4 linked regions of the Homo sapiens genome follow. The protein of the gene in region 1 purifies or fractionates together with the protein of each later gene. This does not show direct contact. Each region holds a gene or a part of one and is shown in the gene's direction. Other genes may lie near its edges. The genes, in order: KDM5C, ZMYND8, ING3 and MGA.

The links.
Region 2: the proteins of KDM5C (region 1) and ZMYND8 purify together in Homo sapiens (affinity purification with mass spectrometry; 2 studies listed by BioGRID and IntAct, with this or other methods). This does not show direct contact.
Region 3: the proteins of KDM5C (region 1) and ING3 purify together in Homo sapiens (co-immunoprecipitation; 2 studies listed by BioGRID and IntAct, with this or other methods). This does not show direct contact.
Region 4: the proteins of KDM5C (region 1) and MGA purify together in Homo sapiens (affinity purification with mass spectrometry; 2 studies listed by BioGRID and IntAct, with this or other methods). This does not show direct contact.

Annotation. Positions count from the first base shown.
Region 1 is NC_000023.11:53,191,646-53,194,246, reverse strand, and holds the end of KDM5C (lysine-specific demethylase 5C), read left to right. Parts: coding exon 1-108; intron 109-395; coding exon 396-474; intron 475-610; coding exon 611-810; intron 811-914; coding exon 915-1,280; 3' UTR 1,281-1,409; coding exon of another isoform or gene 1,410-1,503; 3' UTR 1,504-2,089; downstream 2,090-2,601. UniProt on the Homo sapiens protein: Histone demethylase that specifically demethylates 'Lys-4' of histone H3, thereby playing a central role in histone code. Does not demethylate histone H3 'Lys-9', H3 'Lys-27', H3 'Lys-36', H3 'Lys-79' or H4 'Lys-20'.
Region 2 is NC_000020.11:47,208,699-47,213,735, reverse strand, and holds the end of ZMYND8 (MYND-type zinc finger-containing chromatin reader ZMYND8), read left to right. Parts: intron 1-1,010; coding exon 1,011-1,094; intron 1,095-2,838; coding exon 2,839-2,975; 3' UTR 2,976-4,522; downstream 4,523-5,037. UniProt on the Homo sapiens protein: Chromatin reader that recognizes dual histone modifications such as histone H3.1 dimethylated at 'Lys-36' and histone H4 acetylated at 'Lys-16' (H3.1K36me2-H4K16ac) and histone H3 methylated at 'Lys-4' and histone H4 acetylated at 'Lys-14' (H3K4me1-H3K14ac).
Region 3 is NC_000007.14:120,960,775-120,967,825, forward strand, and holds part of ING3 (inhibitor of growth protein 3), read left to right. Parts: intron 1-3,967; coding exon 3,968-4,064; intron 4,065-4,481; exon of another isoform or gene 4,482-4,697; intron 4,698-4,928; exon of another isoform or gene 4,929-5,059; intron 5,060-5,851; coding exon 5,852-5,923; intron 5,924-6,754; coding exon 6,755-6,874; intron 6,875-7,051. UniProt on the Homo sapiens protein: Component of the NuA4 histone acetyltransferase (HAT) complex which is involved in transcriptional activation of select genes principally by acetylation of nucleosomal histones H4 and H2A.
Region 4 is NC_000015.10:41,663,382-41,670,432, forward strand, and holds part of MGA (MAX gene-associated protein), read left to right. Parts: intron 1-5,446; 5' UTR 5,447-5,513; coding exon 5,514-6,577; intron 6,578-7,051. UniProt on the Homo sapiens protein: Functions as a dual-specificity transcription factor, regulating the expression of both MAX-network and T-box family target genes. Functions as a repressor or an activator.

The DNA of each region.
Region 1 (2,601 bases):
CTCCGCCAACGGCTACAGGCTGAACCTAGACCTGAGGAGCCTCCTAACTACCCTGCAGCCCCTGCTTCTGACCCCCTCAGAGAGGGCAGTGGCAAGGATATGCCTAAGGTGAGCTACTCAGCCCAGCTCTTGTCCTCAGATTCTTGTCTCCTAGCCCCTACCCCAGTTTAGGCTCGGCCCTGCCCCTTGTTCTCCAATTTTCAGTTTTCTTTGGACCAGCCTTCCTACTCCATTCTGCATCTGTCCAGATTCCTAGACTCTGCTCCCTGCTGGCAGCCTGTGTCTTCCCTCCTCCTCCAGAAGGCGGAGGGTCTCAAGTTTGGGGTTGGCGGAGGAGGAATAGGGCCTGGTTCTTCACTTCAGTTGCCCCTACCTATTCTTGCTCTCCTCCGCAGGTCCAGGGCTTACTGGAGAATGGAGACAGTGTGACCAGTCCTGAGAAGGTAGCCCCGGAGGAGGGCTCAGGTAAGAGAGGTAGGTCTAGGTGTGGTGTGGGTAGGCTGTTGACTGCACATCACCATAGTGACCCATGTAGTCCTCAGCTCTGTTGTAGTGGTGGGGATAAGACCAAGGGCAGCCTCTAATGCCGCTTGTTCCTGCAACCTCCTAGATCTGGAGCTGCTGTCCTCGCTGTTGCCACAGTTGACTGGCCCTGTGTTGGAACTGCCTGAGGCAACCCGGGCCCCCTTGGAGGAGCTCATGATGGAGGGGGACCTGCTCGAGGTGACCCTGGATGAGAACCACAGCATATGGCAGCTGCTGCAGGCTGGACAGCCCCCAGACCTGGAGAGGATCCGCACACTTCTGGAGGTGAGGAGAGGGGTCATGGGCCGGGCCAGGAGGTCAGGCCGAGTAGGGAGCCCAGGCCTGACCACTGGCCCACAACCTGTCTTTCTGCCTGTCTGTAATCACAGCTGGAGAAGGCAGAGCGTCACGGGAGTCGGGCTCGGGGCCGGGCCCTGGAGAGGCGGCGGCGGCGGAAGGTGGATCGGGGTGGGGAGGGCGATGACCCAGCCCGAGAGGAGCTAGAGCCAAAGAGGGTACGGAGCTCAGGGCCAGAGGCTGAGGAGGTCCAGGAGGAGGAAGAGCTGGAGGAGGAGACTGGGGGTGAGGGCCCCCCTGCACCCATCCCCACCACTGGCAGCCCCAGCACCCAGGAGAACCAGAATGGCTTGGAACCGGCGGAAGGGACCACTTCAGGCCCCTCGGCCCCTTTCTCCACTCTGACTCCCCGGCTGCATCTGCCCTGCCCACAGCAGCCGCCTCAGCAACAGTTGTGACAGTGGCTGAGCCTAGCACAGACCCTGACAGAGACCCCCCTCGGCCTCAAGGATCCTCTTTCTGACCATCAAGCCTGCTTCTTGGGGGGTGGGCGGGTAGGGGGGTGGCCATCCCTGCTACCCGCCCACCCCTGAGTCCCTTGACTTTTGTATTCTGACTCCAAGGTATTGTTCAGACCTCAGCTCCTGGGGGCCGGCCCCTGGAGTCTTCCCTCCCTGGTAGCCTCTAACCAGCATTCCCAGACACCTGAGGCAGATAGATGGATGGGCTGGTGGGCAGGGGGGTGGCTGGGGCTGGGCCATCACCATTCCAGAGACAAGGCCAGTGTATATGCAAACTGGGGGACTCTCCTCCCTTCTCTCCCCAGTTCTGGTCCTGGCCAGGCCATGCTACACTAACCCCTGCCCCCACTCTCCTCCCCTCTTTTCCTTCCTTCCTACCCCCTTCTCCCTCTCCCTTCCCCTGACTGTTCCACCCAGGAGGAGGAAACTTCACATAGCCGTGCTCACAGTTTTTTATTTTAAAGGAATTTGGCTGGGGAGCTGAACAGGGCTCCCTGTGATCTGAAGAAAGCTTTTGGTGCTTGTCCTCACAACCACCTCAGTCCTCCCTCCCTGTCCTCCCCTGTCTCCTTTCCTCCTCCTGGGTTCATGTTGTAATAAAAGAAGATTGTTGGTGTGTAATTAATTTGTTCAAAAGAAAAAAAAAAGCAAAACAAGAAACTTGGTTCCAACTGAAGCCTATTTTAATTTTATTTTATTATTTTCCTCTTGTTAGAAATAAAACCCTTAGAAACATTTTTTGGAAACATGTTTCTGAAGTGCATTTCTCTTAGACGGGGAAGACAGTGCTTCCATCACCAGTCAGTGGAGCAGCTGTAGTGCTGGCAGGAGCACTAGGGCTGAAGCCAGGGAGCTCTGGGTTCTGAAATCAAGTTCCACCAGCTTCTTAACCTTGGGCAAGACATTCTGATCCTCCCCCGACTCTAACCCCAAGCCACTTTCCCTCAAGTCCAAACAGATGGGCTCGGGCCCCCTCACCCAAACTCCTACACTACAACCTCCCCCAGTTGATGCCCTCCAGTTTATCCTCCTCAAGCTCCCAAAGGGATTTTTTTGTTAATGGCTTTATTGAGATATAATTTACATACTATAAAATTCACTTGTTTGAAATGTACAATTCAGTGATTTGGGGGGTTTCTAAAGTGTAGATCTGATTATATACTGCTTAAAACCTTCCATGATGCTTTATTGCCCTTAAGATTATACATAGAATCTCGTTCTTCCTAGAATGTTTTCCTGTCTAACCCATCTACTGCAT
Region 2 (5,037 bases), on another chromosome or scaffold:
TGCTACCTTGCTCCAGTGAAACACTTGCCTCCTTAGCTCTTTTGTTCTGTCTGCTACAGACAGTATCTCTTGACCCCTCTTTTGGCAGTCCATCTTCTCCTTACCTCTCCCACCCCTGTCATAGCCAGGCTTCCCACCTGTCCTGTGACTTTCCCCGTTGTCAAGGTTGAGAACATGTGCATTCTGTCCTATAACTGCAGTTAAGCCTCACTCTTGTCTGTTGGCTTAGTCTAAAAAGTTGCAGTGTGACAATTCTTTCTTGTATGATTATGACCATATCATTCATGGCAGAGTCACATAGTGTACTGTGATTATATTCCATTCTTTTATAGCCTTTTTCCTGGAGTTTCTATTTTTTCTCTTGATCTTACTTTCAATTGTTTTCCTATGAAGCTTCTCACGGTATCAGCTGTTTACGGAGACTCCTTTCATATCACTGTTTTTTGACTCTGATTTCAGAGGTGATTTGTTGGTGTGCTACCATCGTAGCTGAGAATTTAGCTTACTTGCCACCTCATCTGGAGCCCCTTCCTTAGTCCTCCTCATCACGTGTGCCTTCTCCATCCTCTCCTCCCTATTCTGTTATCACTGTGGGCAGTTGATGAGTTATTGCCTTAAATTGTCTGGCTTTCTCGGGTGCTGCCTTCAACCTTAGCACGTTTCTAGTGCCTGCCTCCGTTTCCCATGGTTGAATTAGGCTATTGGCAGAGCTAGTGGTTGAAAATTTGTGGCTTACAAAATGCTGAGTTGCTTTTATGTCATTGTATACCTTATTTCCTACCTGTAATGCTGTGCTGTGTCCAGTGATGCTGTTTGTGGTTTGATATGCATTTTTAAAGAGACTTAGTCTCCTGTGCTTGCATTAAAGTTGGACAATGGTGACATGAATGAAGGTGCCAACTGGTTCTAATAACAGTAGCCTGTTGATGAACAAAAATAGTAAGCACTTGGGGTTGTGCGGAATTCCAGCTCTCTGACAGACTCTGAGGCTACCTGTGCTATCTCTTCAGTTAGCAAAAGGTGTGACAAGCAACCTGCCTATGCCCCAACCACCACAGACCACCAGCCGCACCCCAACTACCCCGCCCAGAAGTGTAAGTATGAACCTGTCTTACGAAAGCTGCCGGGGCTTCTTCCTGGTATGCAGAAGGCTTGTTCTGTGTGTGTCCGTGTATGTGTTCCTTTGTGGGTGTGTCTTCTCCTGTTCTTTTGAGTTGTGGGTCTTCCTTTGCAACGTTTCTTCTTCGCTGTGCCTCTGGTCGCCATCACAAACTGCATTAGGAAATGAGAGCGAGCATGTGGCCTGGCTTCTTGATGGAGATCGTCCTCGCTCTTTTCATAAAGGGTCCTAGATGAACACCGATTCCCTCCTGTGGTGATTGGCTATGGCAGCCAGTGTCCCGTGTCCTCTCCATATGAGGAGTGAGGGCCTGCAGATCCCTCCATTAGCCAGCCTGGTTCTGGGAGAGAGATACTGAACTCAGCTTGGCCCTGGTCCCATTTCTTCCAGTACCCGCTGGTGGTCTCTGCCCTCACCAGAGCTGGAAGGACTTGATGTGGTTTGACCACATCACTGTAGGATTTTCTCCCAGATGGGGATGACCAGCTGCATCACTCCCCAGAGTCCTTCCGGAGAAATAAAAGCATAGGCATGGCGGCTAAGGGAAGAAGGCATAAGAAGGCAGATTGAGGATTGTTAAGAAGACTCCGCCCTTGCCCCCAGCTCTGCCTACCATAGTATTGCTCCCTTTTGGTCACTGATGCACATGACTAAGAAGAGTTCTCTCCTGAGTAACTACATGACTTTGGAGATCTTTGTCATTCTCTTCACTGCTTATCTTCCAGAACTCATGATTACCCACACATGCCTTTTTACCAGGCAGTAAGAAATGCAGCCCCCCTAGGTAGTAGCATGGTCCCCTCCTTGGCCCACTCCACTCTTGCCCTCAACCTCTTTCAACCAAACATTATCACCCACCTTAAGAAATTAAAAAATAATTCTGTCCCAGTCTGTCTGAACTTAGTACATGATCCAGGATGTGATGGGATCTTAGGGCTTGGCTGGAAGGTTTCTCCAGTCAGCCATCTAGCAGAGCTGCAGATCTGGGCTGGGCTGTTGGCTAAAGTGCTCTTCACAGACACCTCATTCGGCTCTTCCTTCAGCTTCTTCACTTATTTCTTACTCAGTCACTACTCAGCTCCTTGTCCATGTGTCCTTGAAGCCATCCTAGGTCTTATTCTGATTCTGAATTCTTCAGTCACCCATAAGCTTGTCCTTACCGGGAGTCAGTGGGTGTGTGTTCCCAGGTGGACTTAACCATTCTTCTCCTTTATGATCCTTTCCCTTGGGTGGACAAGTGTGATTTGGTTGTAAGGCCATTTTTCAAGTTGCCTATACATTGATAAAAGAAATCCCACTAACGGAAGTAGACTGCATGCCAAATTTCAGTGTCTTTCTCCAGGGGCCAAGGTTGGACCCAGAAGTGCATGGGGTGCTTGGTGTCGTTCAGTGATGTAGTAAGGATACACGGTTCCAGACACGGCACAAGAAATGCCTTCCTTGGCAGTTCAGCACCTTTTCTACAAATCTTTATTCTCTGTGAGCATGACACCCTACCGTTTTTTCAACCGGTTGTCGTTAAATCCTAAAAAATAAGTTGTTCTACCTTTCTGTTCTACAGACCCACAGATGCAGGGCAGTCAGCGGTGGCAGTGTTTGAACCATCAATTGGGAGGGGAAGGTGGTTTCCTGTGCAGGAGGGGCAGGTCAGATTGCAGGATAGTTGTGCTCAGGCGCAGGTGGGCAGGCACGCTAAACACATTGGTTTTCCCCCTCAGACCATTCCCGGAGTAATAAATCCAGTTGGAGCAGCAGTGATGAGAAGAGGGGATCGACACGTTCCGATCACAACACCAGTACCAGCACGAAGAGCCTCCTCCCGAAAGAGTCTCGGCTGGACACCTTCTGGGACTAGCAGTGAATCGGGACACAAACCACCCACCCCATTGGGAGAAAAACCCAGACGCCAGGAAAAGAAGAAACAACAAAGGCAGGAGAACAGCCACTTTCAGACTTGAAAATGACAAAACCCTCAGTTGAGCCTGAGCCCCCGGCGCGGGGGCTGCTACACTACAGGACACCCAGCATCGGCTTTGACTGCAGACTGTTCACCCACACGAGCCCTGTGCTTTTGGTGTAAATAATGTACAATTTGTGGATGTCATTGAATCTAGAGGACTTTCCCCTTTTTATATTTGTATTAACTTTAACTTATTAAAAAAAAAAAAAGAAAAAGAAAAACGATTTAAAAAAAAAAAAAAAAGCAACCAACCCCAACAACAAAAAAGAATGTTTTGGTATTGGAGAAGGGATGGTCAGTTAGCCTGTCTGTCACACGACGGAATGGATACTGGGCCCGGGGACCACTTTCATACTCACGTCCTCATCCTTGGATACCCAGGGGAGGGCGAACCGTTTTCGCTCGTGTGTCTGTACGCAGCATGTTGGGATCGGGAGTTTCGGCACAGACTATCCCATCAAGCCGTTGGCTCCTTTCAGCTACTACGTTACCACGTTCCTAAAACGCAAGCTCTCCGGACCAGACGGACACAGGGAGAAGCTAGTTTCTTTCATGTGATTGAAATGATGACTCTACTCCTAAAAGGGAAAAAACAATATCCTTGTTTACAGAAGAGAAACAAACAAGCCCCACTCAGCTCAGTCACAGGAGAGAACACAGAAAGTCTTAGGATCATGAACTCTGAAAAAAAGAGAAACCTTATCTTTGCTTTGTGGTTCCTTTAAACACACTCACACACACTTGGTCAGAGATGCTGTGCTTCTTGGAAGCAAGGACTCAAAGGCAAGGTGCACGCAGAGGACGTTTGAGTCTGGGATGAAGCATGTACGTATTATTTATATGATGGAATTTCACGTTTTTATGTAAGCATGAAACACAGGCAGTATGAGAGAAAGCAAGGCCCGTCATGCTGTCCGTACACTACGTATGCTGTAGAGCCATTTTGTATGTTGTGTAAAACAAAAAGCATTGATGAAAAAGCAAAAGGTGATGTATGTATATGAGAAAATTAATTGTACGATATCATTCCAGTACGTTTTGTTGTACATTTTAGTCTTGTTTACTTTCTCTTCATTGTTAAGAGGATGCGAACTGTACAGTTTCCAGCTAGTTACCCATATTAGAGAAGAAATAAGAGAGTATTAGAAGAAAACAGGAGAGAAAGAACATTTGTGAATTGCAGTTGTCAAAAAAAAAAAATAGCCTAGCTGGCCTTATTTGTGAAGCATAATTGCTTTTAGCATATGGAAGTATTTTTTCACATTTTCTTTGTATAAAATTTGTATTAAACTTAAATATCTTTTTGATGGTGGTGTTTCTTTGTGACTGAGCCAGTAGACTCACACTATATGCTTTTTTGGGTTTGCCCGTTCCTTCCCCCACCCCCCCAGTTTTTTCAGATTTCTTTACCTTTTTTTAATTAAACTGTTTTGGAAAAATGCCGTGGTCGTCCTCGAATTTGCAGTTTTCCATTTGGTCGGGATGGCTGTGTCAGGTTTGCACGACCAAACACAGAAGGGGCCGTGAGAGGTCATGAACACCCCCCACAGCCAGGTGGTGGGCACACTGGAGAGAATGGGCCCTAGTGGGTGCCCCCCACGCCAGTCCTCGTCAAACAGTTGGGAGAGGACGGAGTTGTCTTCTTGAAGCCCGTAGGGAGGCCGAGCTAACAGGCCTCGCGTGGGCAGCAAGGATCCCAGCCCCTCGCAGGTGCCCTGGTCCATGGCTCTGGGCCTGGCTGGAGGTGCACAGGGTATGAGTAGAATGAAGCCGGCTTGAAAGGCTGAGGTTTGGTTTCCTGGGCAGCAGTGTTCCTTCTCTGCAATCCAGTAACTCCCCAGAAAAGATCTCCACAAACCCCTTCCTGTGCCAAGGGCCAAGACATGACATGGCCGGCAGGGGAGGTTGGCCCGCGTGGGCATAAGTTCATTCCTGCCAATCAGCAAACACACATCGC
Region 3 (7,051 bases), on another chromosome or scaffold:
AATCTATCCTGTTAAAATAGTTTTGTTCTAGAAGCATGATACTCATAAATAGTTGTTAAATACTTATTTGTGTTTCTCAGCCAGATGTCACTGTCATAAGGATGTATTGGATTGCAATACCTAATAAAGTTGATTTATACATACCCTGATAAAATTTGAGCTTTTAGTTAATGCTTGAATGATTTTAGCAGTCTCTTGCAGTGCTCAATACCCTTGAACTTGCTTCTTTTTTTATATCCTGGCCTGTTCCTGAGATGGTTATATTTCAGATGCACATTTTACCTATAAATTTGAGAGTTTTCATCTGATACTCTAATTAAGGAAATATGTGAGTTTGACCTTTTGATTTCTGTCCTGTCCTTATTGTCTTTCAGGAAGATGATTAGACAGAGTTATATGCTAAGGCCTCTCAAGTATTTGTTTCAGCATAACAATAGGTCACATTTTCATCTAGTTTAAATCTAATTTAGAGATATAAAGAATCATTTTCATGACCTGTTATCTGAGAAATACTTTGCTATCATGGTTTCTTCTTCTTCCCCAATTTACCCTCTTTACTCGCTATTACTAGACCTTTTCATGGTTAGAAATTTAACTTACTGCTGTCTATTTCAACTTAGAATGTAACAGACTTGATTGCCTCTTCCGATAGGGCAAGCTAGACATCTAAATTTTATAAATTGATTGTATTGGAAGCAGTAGATCATGTAGAGACTTTAAAAAAGCTGTATTTAGTTTTGTTTGGGTCCATTAGTGATACACTTTAAATGTGAATATTAGAAAACCAGAGAGTCAAAAAAGAAAGAGTCAAAGATTACAACTCTATGCAAATATTATAGGATGAAGGATTTTTTGTTTGTTTTGTGCAGAGGGGCCAAGTATGACTTAAATTTGCTATGATCATGAGTGTGTTAACAAGTAATGTTGGTAGAATATCCTTTGTCTTTAAAGAGGCTAGAAAAATTATAGGAGTTTAAACTTAAAGCTGTTATGATTTGGGGTTGTAGAATATGATTTGGGATTATAGGGCAAGGAAACTTTGTTTATAGCACTTGTTGACATTAACTGGGAAAAAAAGAAATAATTAGACTCTGTGGTTAGCCCTGTTTTAGGAATCTGTGGCTAATGGAAAATCTCTCAATTGGATCAGTACCCTCTTTACTATTGTAAATCAGTCTTATGAAAGCAGATGTTTGTGGAAGGGTGAGGTAACTTACATCCTTGCTTTGCTTGATGCCTGTGGGGACAACATGGTGATCAGCTAGAAGAGGTGCTGTAACCGTTCAGAATCATGTAGGTTGAGGGAATGCACATGATGGATTTCAGGCAAGTTCACAGCTCTTATTATGGCTGTTTAATATTGTTTAAATATCCTAGTGCTTTATAGCTTAAGTTAATTCTTGTGGTCAATGGGACTTTCCAACTTCTAATTTGATTTAGTACAGCAGTAGTAAATAGAAGAAAAATAATGCTCATTGCCTAATAATTGCTTATAATATTAATCAGGTCATAATCTCTTTTACATATGAGGAAGTAAGAATGATTGGAAGCCGTCTTATAAAGATGCCTACCACAAGTGGTTAAGGCTTTTCTGTCTTTGTTTATTTTAACTATGAATTTGGTTTTTAGAGTTATTAACCCTTTAGGTTCTAGTGCCTTTTCTGAGCTATCTAGTATTGAAAGTCTTGTCATTATTTTTAACATTTTCATATGTAGTGAACTTTATCAATAATATATTTAATAAAATGAAACAATCCTTAAATGCAGAGGTGAAGTGAGTTAGGGCAAGGTGTATGGTATGAAAAAGAAAGGTCTTTATCTCACCCTAACACTACCCCCTCAACCTAACATTCTTGCTCACTGTGCTTTATATACATATTACACGCTACATCATACTTTGTTTTTCTCTAAGCATACTGTTTGTCTTTCTGTCTCTACATTTTTTATTGTGATTCCTTTTTTCCTTCTATTTGAATACAATCCATCTTCACCGTCTTAATTCGTACCTCCTTCGTGTCTACCAGTGTTACTTTTTTATGTACAACTTCTGACTCTTTTTGAACTGTTGCTTATTTGTGACATCTAGACTATATTTTTATCCCTTATTATATTAAAAATCATATATAAATCTTGATTTGTCAGCTAAATTCTAATTCCTATGAAGGCAATGATTCTCTTCCATTCTTCATATATCCTCCATTTAATCCAGCACCAAGCACGTAATAGCTCAATATTTATTATTAGTATAATTGTAGGTACAAAAAGCAATGGAGTGTTTTCGTTGCATTAGTGGTCTTGGAACTTAAATATGAATATTTTTTCTGATTTCCCTTGAGATTAAATTTTGACAATGAAAGAGGTATGCTCAAATAACAGACGTCTGTGTTCACACTATTATTGGAAAGGAAGTTCCATTAAAGGATGCTCAATTACCTGCAGATTCTTTGAATAGGAGCAAGTATCCATAATATGTGATGTTATAGGTTTTTAAATATTCTAGAACTCTGAAAAGTAATGTGTGTGTAAAGGTAGAAGGAAAACTGGCTTTCAGTTTTTGAAAAAATCACAAACCAACACCCTAATGATTGTTGTTAATATATAAAATACAAATAATAGGACAATATTACTAGTTTTTATACTTGAGTTATATTATTCTGAAGAATGTTTTTCAAAAAAAAAACAGTTGTTTTCTGCATGCAGAAAGTTCAGAGGTCAATGTCAGGTAAATGGCAAAGCAGAATTTGTTACAAATAAAGTTAAATTTGGTTTCTGTAATGCATTAGCTATATGACCTTGGGCATATTACTTAAGTAACCCTTCCGAGCCTTAATTTCTTCACCTATAAAGTAGAGACAGTAATAACTTCAAAAGATCAGATCGAGGGCTAGAAAAGATAGGTCATCTGATGCGTCAAGCACATTACCTCCTCTTCATAGGCATCTAACCCATGCACATTGTGTTTTGCTACCTTTCTCCCCTTCTTCCTCATGTTAGTTACACATTATTTAATTCTAAACCTTACTTAAAATGTTGCCCTGGTAGAGTATCATAGCACATGTTGATATCTGTAAGAAAGTTATTTCTAATTCTAGCAGTAATCCAGTGGGAAACTAGACTTAGAAAAGGATGTTATCAATAATGTGACATGAATATTTTTCAAAGAATTTGTGTATTTTTTGGTTTCACTTCAAAGTAATGAGTTTGAAAAAATATTAAAATATTTAATATTAAGTTTAAAAAATACATTAAGACATTTTTTGTTAGTTTGAAGTGTCATATAATTTTCTGAAATTAGTCAAAAGATCTCTCAGTGACAAAATAAAATTTTGCCAAGTTAACTAGGGAAATAGTATTATAAATAAAATAATTTTAACCAGATCCTTTGAGGAATGGAGTTTTCTGGCTAACAATCCCTTTTGTTTCACCTCTTCACATAAATGTTTACAAGCATTATGATTCACTCTCATGCCTTAGAGTAATAGATGTATAGAATATAGGAACTTCTTTGTAGACTGAGGATCTTTCATCATTCTAAATAATAGCTTTTATCGTATGACAGTGTGGATGATGGCCTTATAAGCAGGAGGAGATTAGGCTCTAAGTAATCACAGGGCATATTATGAAAAGTGACCAGCCTCCACCATCCCCTCCTCCCATTCTCTAATCCCTAATCAGTTTTGCTTTAATTTTCATGTCCTGACTTCTGAAAATGGAGTATAGAACATTTCCTAACAAGTTGAGAGTCTGGGTCTTAGAACTTAAAATTTATTGAAGGAGACTTGGGAGATTATTTAGCCTAACACCCTCATTTTATAGATTAAAAACCTCTGAGGCATAGATTAATTGACTTGCTCAAGGATACTAAGCAGATTCACTAAAAGAAACAAAAATTTAGGTTTCCTCATTAAGCTGACACTTTAACAGTGTCCCAAATTTTGGTGGTTATCTTTGATCTTCTTTGAAACAGGTAGATCGACACTTGAGAAAGCTGGATCAGGAACTGGCTAAGTTTAAAATGGAGCTGGAAGCTGATAATGCTGGAATTACAGAAATATTAGAGAGGCGTAAGTAAAATTTACAGTTTTCCATCAATATTGGACAGTACATGTGCAAATCGCTGAGAAGACCTTGTCCCACAGAGGCTTTTGAAATCCTGCCCTTCAATGGATGGTGGCATCCAGGCCAGATAGCTTGGACCCTAACAGTTGGAAATGTTTGGGTCATGCATACTGAGAGAGATAATATAGGATATCATCCACTCACTCTTTATGAAACAACATATTAAATCATTTTATATCCACATATACTAGTAAGTTGAGTGGTAAGAACAAATTTAAAGAAATGTAACCATCGGGAGACAAATTAACCATCTTGCATTAAGTGTGTTGACTTTACTCTGCCTCTTTATACACTTAAGCTTTGAGGAAAGTTGTTAGTTTCTCTTCTTAAGAATTACTTTATGGCTTTTCCTTAACTGCATATACTGAAAAAGACTCACATTGGTTTCATAACACTACCTCTTTTTCTTAAAGAAGTGTTTTCTTCTTTCCCTTAGCAGCAAGAAACCATTTTGATATTTCTTTGCAAGGCTCTATTTGATCTCCTGCTATAACTTACCCCTGTCACTTCTTTGGTGTGACTTCCCAAAAATGGAAGCATGAGCACTGTTTCCTTAACTAATTTAGCATTTCTTCAACCTAAATAGGTAATGTACATAAAAGCAGTTAGTGTGGTACTAGGTGTAGAGTAGGCACTCACTAGATGTTAATTGAACCAAATTAATATTATGGCTAATTTCTACTAGAATTTAATTAAAACTTACAAACCTTCTTTTTCTTGGTGCATTTCAACAGTAAGAATATGTACCTGTTTCTACACACAGATGAAAGATTTCTTTACAGTGCCAATCTATGTATCTCTCTACTCACTAGAAGTCAGCTAGGGAAGCCAATCACAGATCTGTCTTGGTATCCATAGTTGCATTTTTGTGTTCAAAAGTAGATCCATCACTTTAGATAATCATCCTATTTATTTGTGATACTTTTCTTCTGGAGGAACCCTATATAAAGATAATAAGTATTTTGAGACAAAATTAAAAATTCTGTATCTGCTTTGATTTTTTAAAAATGCTGATGATAGCTGTGAGTAATGATAATTCATGCCTATTCAGTACTGCAGGAAGGTTAATAAAGCATCCTCTCTAAGGACACAGACATATGAAACAAAATTGGATCAAGTTATAAAAACTGCTCCACCCTGTGCCCTGCCATAATTTCATCTCAAGGGATCAAAAATAAACCCAGAAAAATGTATTTAGAGGTATTTTAAAGCTTGGTGTTAGAGATTCTATTCCTCACTTTTTGCGAACAAAATCCCTAACTTCTTTTAGGAAGTCTTTATTATCATAATGTCATTTTAATGATCAAATAATTTTTTTCATATAGTAATGTCCCCCATCACGTAGAACTTCAGAATCTCCCATTAAAAGGTCTTCAACTCAGTAAAACTAGGTTGACTCTTACCAGTAATGAGATTACAATGTCCATTCATCCATTTATATGGCACCCACTATGGTGAATTCCCTAATTAGACACGAGTATGCCTTGAGCCATTTTGTACTTAAGATTAATATTGGGAAAAGGATAACTTATTGTTTAGAGAGAGGATAACTCAGTGTGGGATGGACAGTGGTGATCCTCTAACATGTCTGGCTAAAATAAATACAGGCATATGCATCAGAACTTGCTAGTCCTCTGCTGGGTAAGGGAACTCATTGCCTGTAGTTGAGTGACATGTGAAGTTCTGCGGTGACATTTAATGGTGGTGTATCTCTGTGCCTCTCTTCTTTTAGGATCTTTGGAATTAGACACTCCTTCACAGCCAGTGAACAATCACCATGCTCATTCACATACTCCAGTGGAAAGTAAGTTTGGTGTAGTGCAGCTAAGTTTTAAAAACAATGAAAACCTTATTATATCACCTATATGTTCTCTTTTTTTAACTCTACACAACCAATTGAGAAATAAATCCCTTCTTTTTTTTTCATTGCAAGTACTGGCAGACTTGTCTTTTTCCTTGGGGGGAGCATATGTGATTCGGAAATGAGTATTCTGTTTTCTCTTAAATGCGTAGAAGGAGAATGTATAGTACTAATAGCATATATTCCCTTCATACACATACCTGATTCTCCTTAGGGAGCTTTTCAACTGAGCATTCTCCTTAGGGAGCTTTTCAACTGAGCCAAACAATAAGCTATTTTGTAATAGGCCCTTTGTCTTTTTCATCCTTGCTTCTCCAGTGCTTAACCTAATGTTTGGCATATAATTAAGTCTGAATGGTTGGTAAGTCAGTGAGTGGATGAATTGTTAGTTAGATGACTGGCTGGCTGGTTGGTAACAGTCAAAAAATGACTATATCAGTACATCTTTTGACACATCAATTTGGTGGGAAACTATTTTAAGTGGTAGATTGTGTTTTGAAAACAAAATTTCCCTCACATTGTATGTGAGCCCATGGTGTATCTTGGGTTATCTTTAGTACTTTGCTAGAAGTTTTTTAAATGGTGGAGAAGTCTACTCTTAATAAACATGTGACACAGAGTTCTGCTTGTCCTGCCTTCTGAGGAAACATCATGTTCTGTATTTTATGAGGAACCCAGATCATACTGTTTCACATTTTAACTGGATATAAGTATTATGCCTTGTCCATAGTTCTCTAAAGTTTAAAAACACATGAATTTTTTATTTATATTTAGAAAGGAAATATAATCCAACTTCTCACCATACGACAACAGATCATATTCCTGAAAAGAAATTTAAATCTGAAGCTCTTCTATCCACCCTTACGTCAGATGCCTCTAAGGAAAATACACTAGGTAAGTTAATTTTCTTAAATATGATTGCTTTGTTTGTTTGTGTTAGAGTAAGGGGAAATAAAGTGTTTCAGGATTAATGAATCATACAGTTTCTTTACCTGGTTAAAGTATACATATGGAGAAAGAAGAAAAAGGAAAACCAAATACATTATTCAGTTGACTTAATGTACAAGTGAC
Region 4 (7,051 bases), on another chromosome or scaffold:
GTTTTCATTAAAGCTTTTAGTTTCCCAGAGTATTTTTAGGATGTTGCTAGAAGATTTATTTCTTCATGAGTAGCCTACCCTTTTCTTTTCTTTATTATTATTATTGTTGTTGTTGTTGTTGTTATTATTTTGAGACCGAGTCTCACACTATCTCCAAGGCTAGAATGCAGTGGTGCTATCTCGGCTCATTGCAACCTCCTGCCTCATCCTCCCGAGTAGCTGGGACTACAGGTGCGCAACACGACGCCCGGCTAATTTTTTGTATTTTTTGTAGAGAGAGGGTTTTGTCATGTTGGCCAGGCTGATCTTGAACTCCTGACATCAGGTGATTCGCCCGCCTCAGCCCCTCAAAGTGCTGGGATTACAAGCGCGAGCCACCGCTCCCGGCCTAGCCTACCCCTTTCTAAAGTACATTTGAGTTTTGCGGTTGGCTTAAGTAGACTTTAGAGTGGTCTTGGTGTGTCTGAAACAGCTGAATATCCTTAATTGACTGCCCTTTGATTAGAAAATTCAAATGTTTTACAATATTTATCTTAGAAAAAAAAGAAAATTCATATGGTAGCTCCAAACCTAGGCATATGCTTATAGCGAAGTGGAATCTGTGCCTAGATTGATGTAGAATAAGAATTTCATTCCATGTTCTTAAACCAGTAGCTGTTATGGCTCAAGATAGAGATGGTTTTAGTCATAAATTAAGTCTTTAATTCAATGCATTTTCATCAACTAATGGATTAATTTGATTAGTGGAGTTAAAAAACCGGCCTTATACAAATCATAAGTCAGAAGTTTATTTTCCTGTCTTCAGGCACATTTTTACATTTTTTTATTATATGCCTGTGCACAAAGTTGAAATAGGTTGATATGACTTCTCTGCACTAATATTTTGCTTCGGCAGAAAGAAAAACTCAGTGTGTGTATATAAAGTTAGTGTAAAATTTACTTCAAGTGCAGTCTGATTTTCACCAAACTGGGTTTTTGTCAACTGCATCTTTGACATTTCATAGATTAATCTTTAAAAGACAGTAATTTTTAAAGAATTGGTTAAAACTTCTCTGTCTTGGTTTTACTGGTAATGATCTGAAAACCAAAATTTTAGTTTATAGAAAGATGTTTAATAAATTCGGCACCTTTTCATGTAATTTATAGGTTTGGGATAACTAGATTTTTTTTCATATACTTCTTTGCTGCCTTAGTCATATGAAATGCACCTAAGGATGTTGTGCTCACGTGGAACACATACACACAAAGGATGTTTTGCATACTTATTCACAAAAATAGTTGGTGATTTGTAATAAAACCTTGAAGTTTATGAATTAATAAGTACAAGCTAGGAGTTTGCATTGTTTGAATTATACATCATTGTAGAGGTATTTTTTTTTTGCCAGTTCTTTAAGCTTTAATATTTTACCTTATTTGTGACTTCCGTTTAGTTTTGTTTTGTCAGTCTCTGATAGGTATCGCCTAAGTGTGTTAGTTTTAGAAAACCAATCAACTTCATAGGTAAAAGCTTGAGGCAGCTTTTGAAAAGAATCACTGTACATTTTATCTCTTTTAAAAATAAACTTCACATCAGAGGAGAGATTTTTTGTTGTTGTTGTTCCTGACCTTTCCTGATATTAGTGCTTTAGTGTTGGGAAGTGAATTTCTATTTTTATCTCTAGTCATAATAGGAAACAATAGTAAACCTTTTGAAGTCGTGATTTTAAAAATATCTATTATCTGTAGACTAACAGATATTTTAAGCTTTGGAGCTGTATGACCAATCTTGTAAGAAGAGGTAAAATTCAGATTAGGTGCTTTTGCTGCTCATCATTAGCTCTGATGAAAGGTAAAATACTTTTTAATTATAATGAAGAAGACTAATAAGTGGCTGAATTTGATTAAGATTACTGACCCACTTACACAGGAGTGGTGGTGATGTAGCATCTTCCTTTTTGTATAAAAACTGGAAGCTGTAGCTTTAATTTGGCATATGAGTTCGGTTGATTTTAGCAATCAGATTTCGTTTTGGTTTTTTTTTTTTGAGACAGGGTCTCACTCTGTCATCTAGACTGGAGTGCAGTGGCACCATCACAGCTCACTGCAGCCTTGGCCTCCCCACCCCCAGGCTCGAGGGATCCTCTCACCTCAGCCACTCAAGTAGCTGGGACTACAGCTACACACCATTGTAGAGATGGAGTCTCACTGTGTTTTCCAGGTTGGTCTCAAACTCCTGGGCTTAAGCGATCCTCCTGCCTCAGCCTCCCAACGTGCTGGCATTATAGGCATGAGCCACCATGGCCGGCCTCATTTCTTTATTATAACTTTTTATTGAGATATAATTCACATAACATATAATTCATCATTTTAAAGTATACACCAAAAAGAAATCCCACACCCATTAGCAGTTAGTCCCAGTTACCCCTTCCCCTGAAACCACTAATCTACTTTGTTTCTCTAGATTTGCCTGTGTTGGACATCTCATATAAATGGAATCATACAATATATGTGACCTTTTTCTTTATAACCTTTAATAATTAACTAATTTTAACTTTATTTTTTATTTTTTTAAAGAGACGGGGTCTCACTCTGTCTCCTAGGCTGGAGTGCAGTGATATGGTTATGGCTCACTGCAACCTGAACTTCCAGGGCTGCTGAAGGTGTCCTCCTGCCTCAGCCTCCTGGCCACCATACCTGCTATTTTTTTTTTTTTTTTGGTAGAGACTGACTGGCTATTTTGACCAGGCTGGTCTTGAACTCTTGACCTCAAACGTTACTCCCACATGGGCCTCCTAAAGTGATGGAATTACCGGTGTGAGCCACTGCACCTGCCCACCTGGCCTGTGTTTTAGTTTTTAAAGGTTGTGTGTTCACAAGACACAAAATTTACAAAGTGTAAAAGGGTATCTTTTCCAAGTCATCAAGTTTTCCTTGGATATGACCAATACTACTGTTTTCTTTTCTGTCTTTCCAGAGATAGTCTGTGTAAAGCAAATATGTACATGTTCTTTTTCATTCTTTGGCTTTTTATTTATTTTAAAGACCGAAATACTGTCTATTTCTTTGATTTTAAAAAGGAAAAATCTTTTACAAGGGTTGAAAAACTACCTATCAGGTACTATGTTCACTGCTTGGATGATGGGATCATTAGAAGCCCAAACCTTATATTATGCAGTAGACTCATGTAAACAAACCTGCACGTGTTCTCCCTGTCTGAAGTTTAAGAGGTACAATAAAAAACTTTTAAAAGATGTGTGGCATAATTTACAACTCTTCTGAACATTTTACGCTTAATATATCTTGTAGATACTTTTTGCATGCATTCATTAAGCTTATACATTCTCTTTTGTGACTGTTAACATTCCACTCTATGGATGTGTCATCATTTGTTTTACCATTTTAAGGACTTCTCTCTTCCTGTCTAGTCTTTTGCTGTTATAAGTGGGAATGCAGGGGATAATCTTGTATAGATATCATTTATCACAGGTGTGTGTATTTAAAATAAAGTCCTATAGTGGGTTTTAACAGTGAATTAAGAAAACTTAAAGTCCTGGGAACAATTCTTTGTCATAGGATGATATATGGATTTGTACTTTTGATATTTTCAAGTTGCCCTCTCTTAGAGATTCTATTATTTTATACTCCCAGTAACTGCTTAGGGGAGAATGCTGGTTGACCTAACCCTTTCCAGCACTACCAGGCTTTGATTTTTGCCAGTCTGATAAGTAAAAAAACAGTATCTCAAGATGACTTTAATTTGCTTTCCTCTTAACTATGTACATATTCATAGCCATTTGCGTTTATTATCCTTTACTCATTTTTCTGTTAGGTATTTGGTCTTGTTGATTTGTAGGAAGCCTTTAAAAATTATTATTACTGTTAATGTATTTTTATTTTTTTTTTTGAGTCAGAGTCTCGCTCTGTCACCCAGGCTGAAGTGCAGTGGTGCCATCTTGGCTCGCTGCAACTCCACCTCCTGGGTTCAAGCAATTCTCTTGTCTTAGCCTCCCGAGTACCTGGGATTATGGGCGCACACCACCATGCCTAGCTAATTTTTTTATTTTTAGTAGAGACAGGGTTTCACCATGTTGGCCAGGCTGGTCTTGAGCTCCTGACCTCAAGTGATCTGACCTCCTTGGCCTCCCAGAGTGCTTGGATTACAGGCGTGAGCCACTGCTCCCCCGCCGCTATTATTTTTTAATAGAGACGGACTTTCACTACGTTGGACAGGCTGGTCTGGGACTCCTGACTTCAAGCAATCCTCCTGCCTTGGCCTCCCAAAGTGCTGGGATTATAGGTGTGAGTCACCATGTCCAGCCCCCTTTTTATATTAGGGAAAGGAGTTCTTTATAAGTTGCAAATACCTTTTCCTGGTTAGTTTGCTTTTTGATTTTGCTTAAATGATTTTGCCAGATTAAAAAATTTACAGAATATTAAATTTTATTTTATTTTTATTTCTTTGAGACGGAGTCTTTCCCTGTCACCCAGGCTGGAGTGCAGTGGCGTGATCTTGGCTCAGTGCACCTTCTGCCTCCTAGGATCAAGTGATTCTCATGCCTCAGCCTCCTGAGTAGCTGGGACTACAGGCGTGCACCACCACACCAGGCTAATTTTTTAATTTTTAATAGAGATGGGGTTTCGCCATGTTGGCCAGGCTAGTCTCGAATTCCTGGCTTTAAATGATCCACTGGCCTCAGCCTCTCAAAGTGCTGGGATTGCAGGTGTGAGCCACCACACCTGGCATCATATAGTATTAAATTTATCACTTTTTTTTTTTTTGGCCTTACTGGTTTTAGATTTTGTGTCTTATCAAAAAACTTTTCTCAGGATTTAGGAATAAAAAAATTAAATATTAGAGTCATCTGGAATTTATTTCAGTGTAAGGTCCATTGAGTTCCAGTGATTTGTCATGGCTTCTTTAAACGTGTGTACTAAGAAGTTAGATAGCTTTTTACTTATTTATGGAACCATGTCTTCTGAACCATATGAAGAACTAATTCTGTACAATTAGCTCTTTGGGATGAAAATGGAACTTTACTTATTTAATTTACTCATCACTGGGGAACTTGCTATATAAAGGAATCTTCTGGTAAATTCATAAAGTGTTAGGATGCTTTAAAAATGCATAACCTTCAAATTTAACTTTTTAATTTTGTATACTTTTTTAATAATGAATATACTCTTTTGTTTCTTTGTGTGAGATTATAGTATTTATAGTGAATTGTTAGAGGATTAGGATATAAGCACCTTAACTAATTAGATTAAAATGAACTTTAAAAAATGATTAGATATTCCAGAGTAAATATTCTTACTGTGATTGAAAGAAAAGCTTAGAAGCAAAGTCTTAGAAGAATTTAGGAATATTTTGGGGATAACATAATCGTTCTTGTATTTTTGTTCAAGAAATAAATACTCACTTGATTAAAGGGTGTTTTTTGTTTTTGGTTTTTTTTTGCTTGTTTCTTAGGATGGGAAGGCCATTGTGACTATGTGGTGATTACAGTTGTCTTACTACTGAGTTTCCTACTGAAATCATGGAGGAGAAACAGCAGATTATATTGGCTAATCAAGATGGTGGAACAGTGGCAGGAGCAGCACCTACCTTCTTTGTCATCTTAAAGCAGCCAGGAAATGGCAAAACTGATCAAGGAATTTTGGTTACTAATCAGGATGCCTGTGCTTTGGCTAGTAGTGTGTCATCACCAGTAAAATCTAAAGGGAAGATTTGCCTTCCAGCTGATTGTACTGTGGGTGGAATCACTGTTACCCTCGATAACAATAGTATGTGGAATGAGTTCTATCATCGAAGCACAGAGATGATTCTGACCAAGCAAGGAAGACGCATGTTTCCTTACTGTCGTTATTGGATAACAGGTTTAGATTCAAATTTGAAGTATATTCTTGTCATGGATATATCTCCTGTGGATAACCATCGTTATAAGTGGAATGGTCGTTGGTGGGAACCTAGTGGGAAGGCTGAACCTCATGTTTTGGGGAGGGTTTTCATTCATCCAGAATCTCCTTCCACAGGTCATTATTGGATGCATCAACCAGTATCTTTCTATAAACTCAAACTTACCAACAATACACTGGACCAAGAAGGGCATATCATCTTGCACTCTATGCATCGTTACCTGCCGAGGCTTCATTTGGTGCCTGCAGAAAAGGCTGTGGAGGTGATACAATTAAATGGCCCTGGTGTCCACACTTTTACCTTCCCACAGACTGAATTCTTTGCAGTAACAGCTTATCAGAACATTCAGATTACTCAGCTGAAAATAGATTACAATCCATTTGCCAAAGGCTTTCGGGATGATGGGCTGAATAATAAGCCCCAGAGAGATGGAAAACAAAAGAACAGCTCTGACCAAGAAGGGAATAATATTTCCAGTTCTTCTGGTCATCGGGTCCGTCTTACAGAAGGTCAGGGGTCAGAGATACAACCAGGTGATTTGGATCCTTTGTCAAGGGGTCATGAAACATCAGGCAAGGGTTTGGAGAAGACTTCCCTTAATATAAAACGAGACTTTCTTGGTTTCATGGATACTGATTCAGCACTTAGTGAAGTTCCTCAATTGAAGCAAGAGATTTCTGAATGGTAAGTAGTAGTTTTTCTGTTCTTAGAAATAAAAGGAAGATTGAGATGGGCCAGGTGTTGGATTTAACATCTTGGTTCTGTGGAATGCTACAGATGTTGATAAATGTAAGCCACTATAAAATATACTACAACTGCTTTTACATTCTGTGAAGTGACATCATTTTTCTGTAATGAGAATCAGTTGGGTTCAGGATCTAGAATTGTAGGCAAATTGGATAACTTATCAGAATTATTCATATGTATTTAGAATGTTCCTTGATATCCTTGGGGGATTGGTTCCAGGACCACCCAAGAATACCAACACCTGACTACATTTGAGACTCCATCTCAATAAAAAAAAGAAAATCATACCAATTATGACAACATAGATGAGCCTAGAGAATACTATGCTAAGTGAAATAGGCAAAACAAAAAAAGACAAATACTGCAAAATATTCATAAAAGTAGAAAGTAGAATGGTGGATGCCAGGGGGT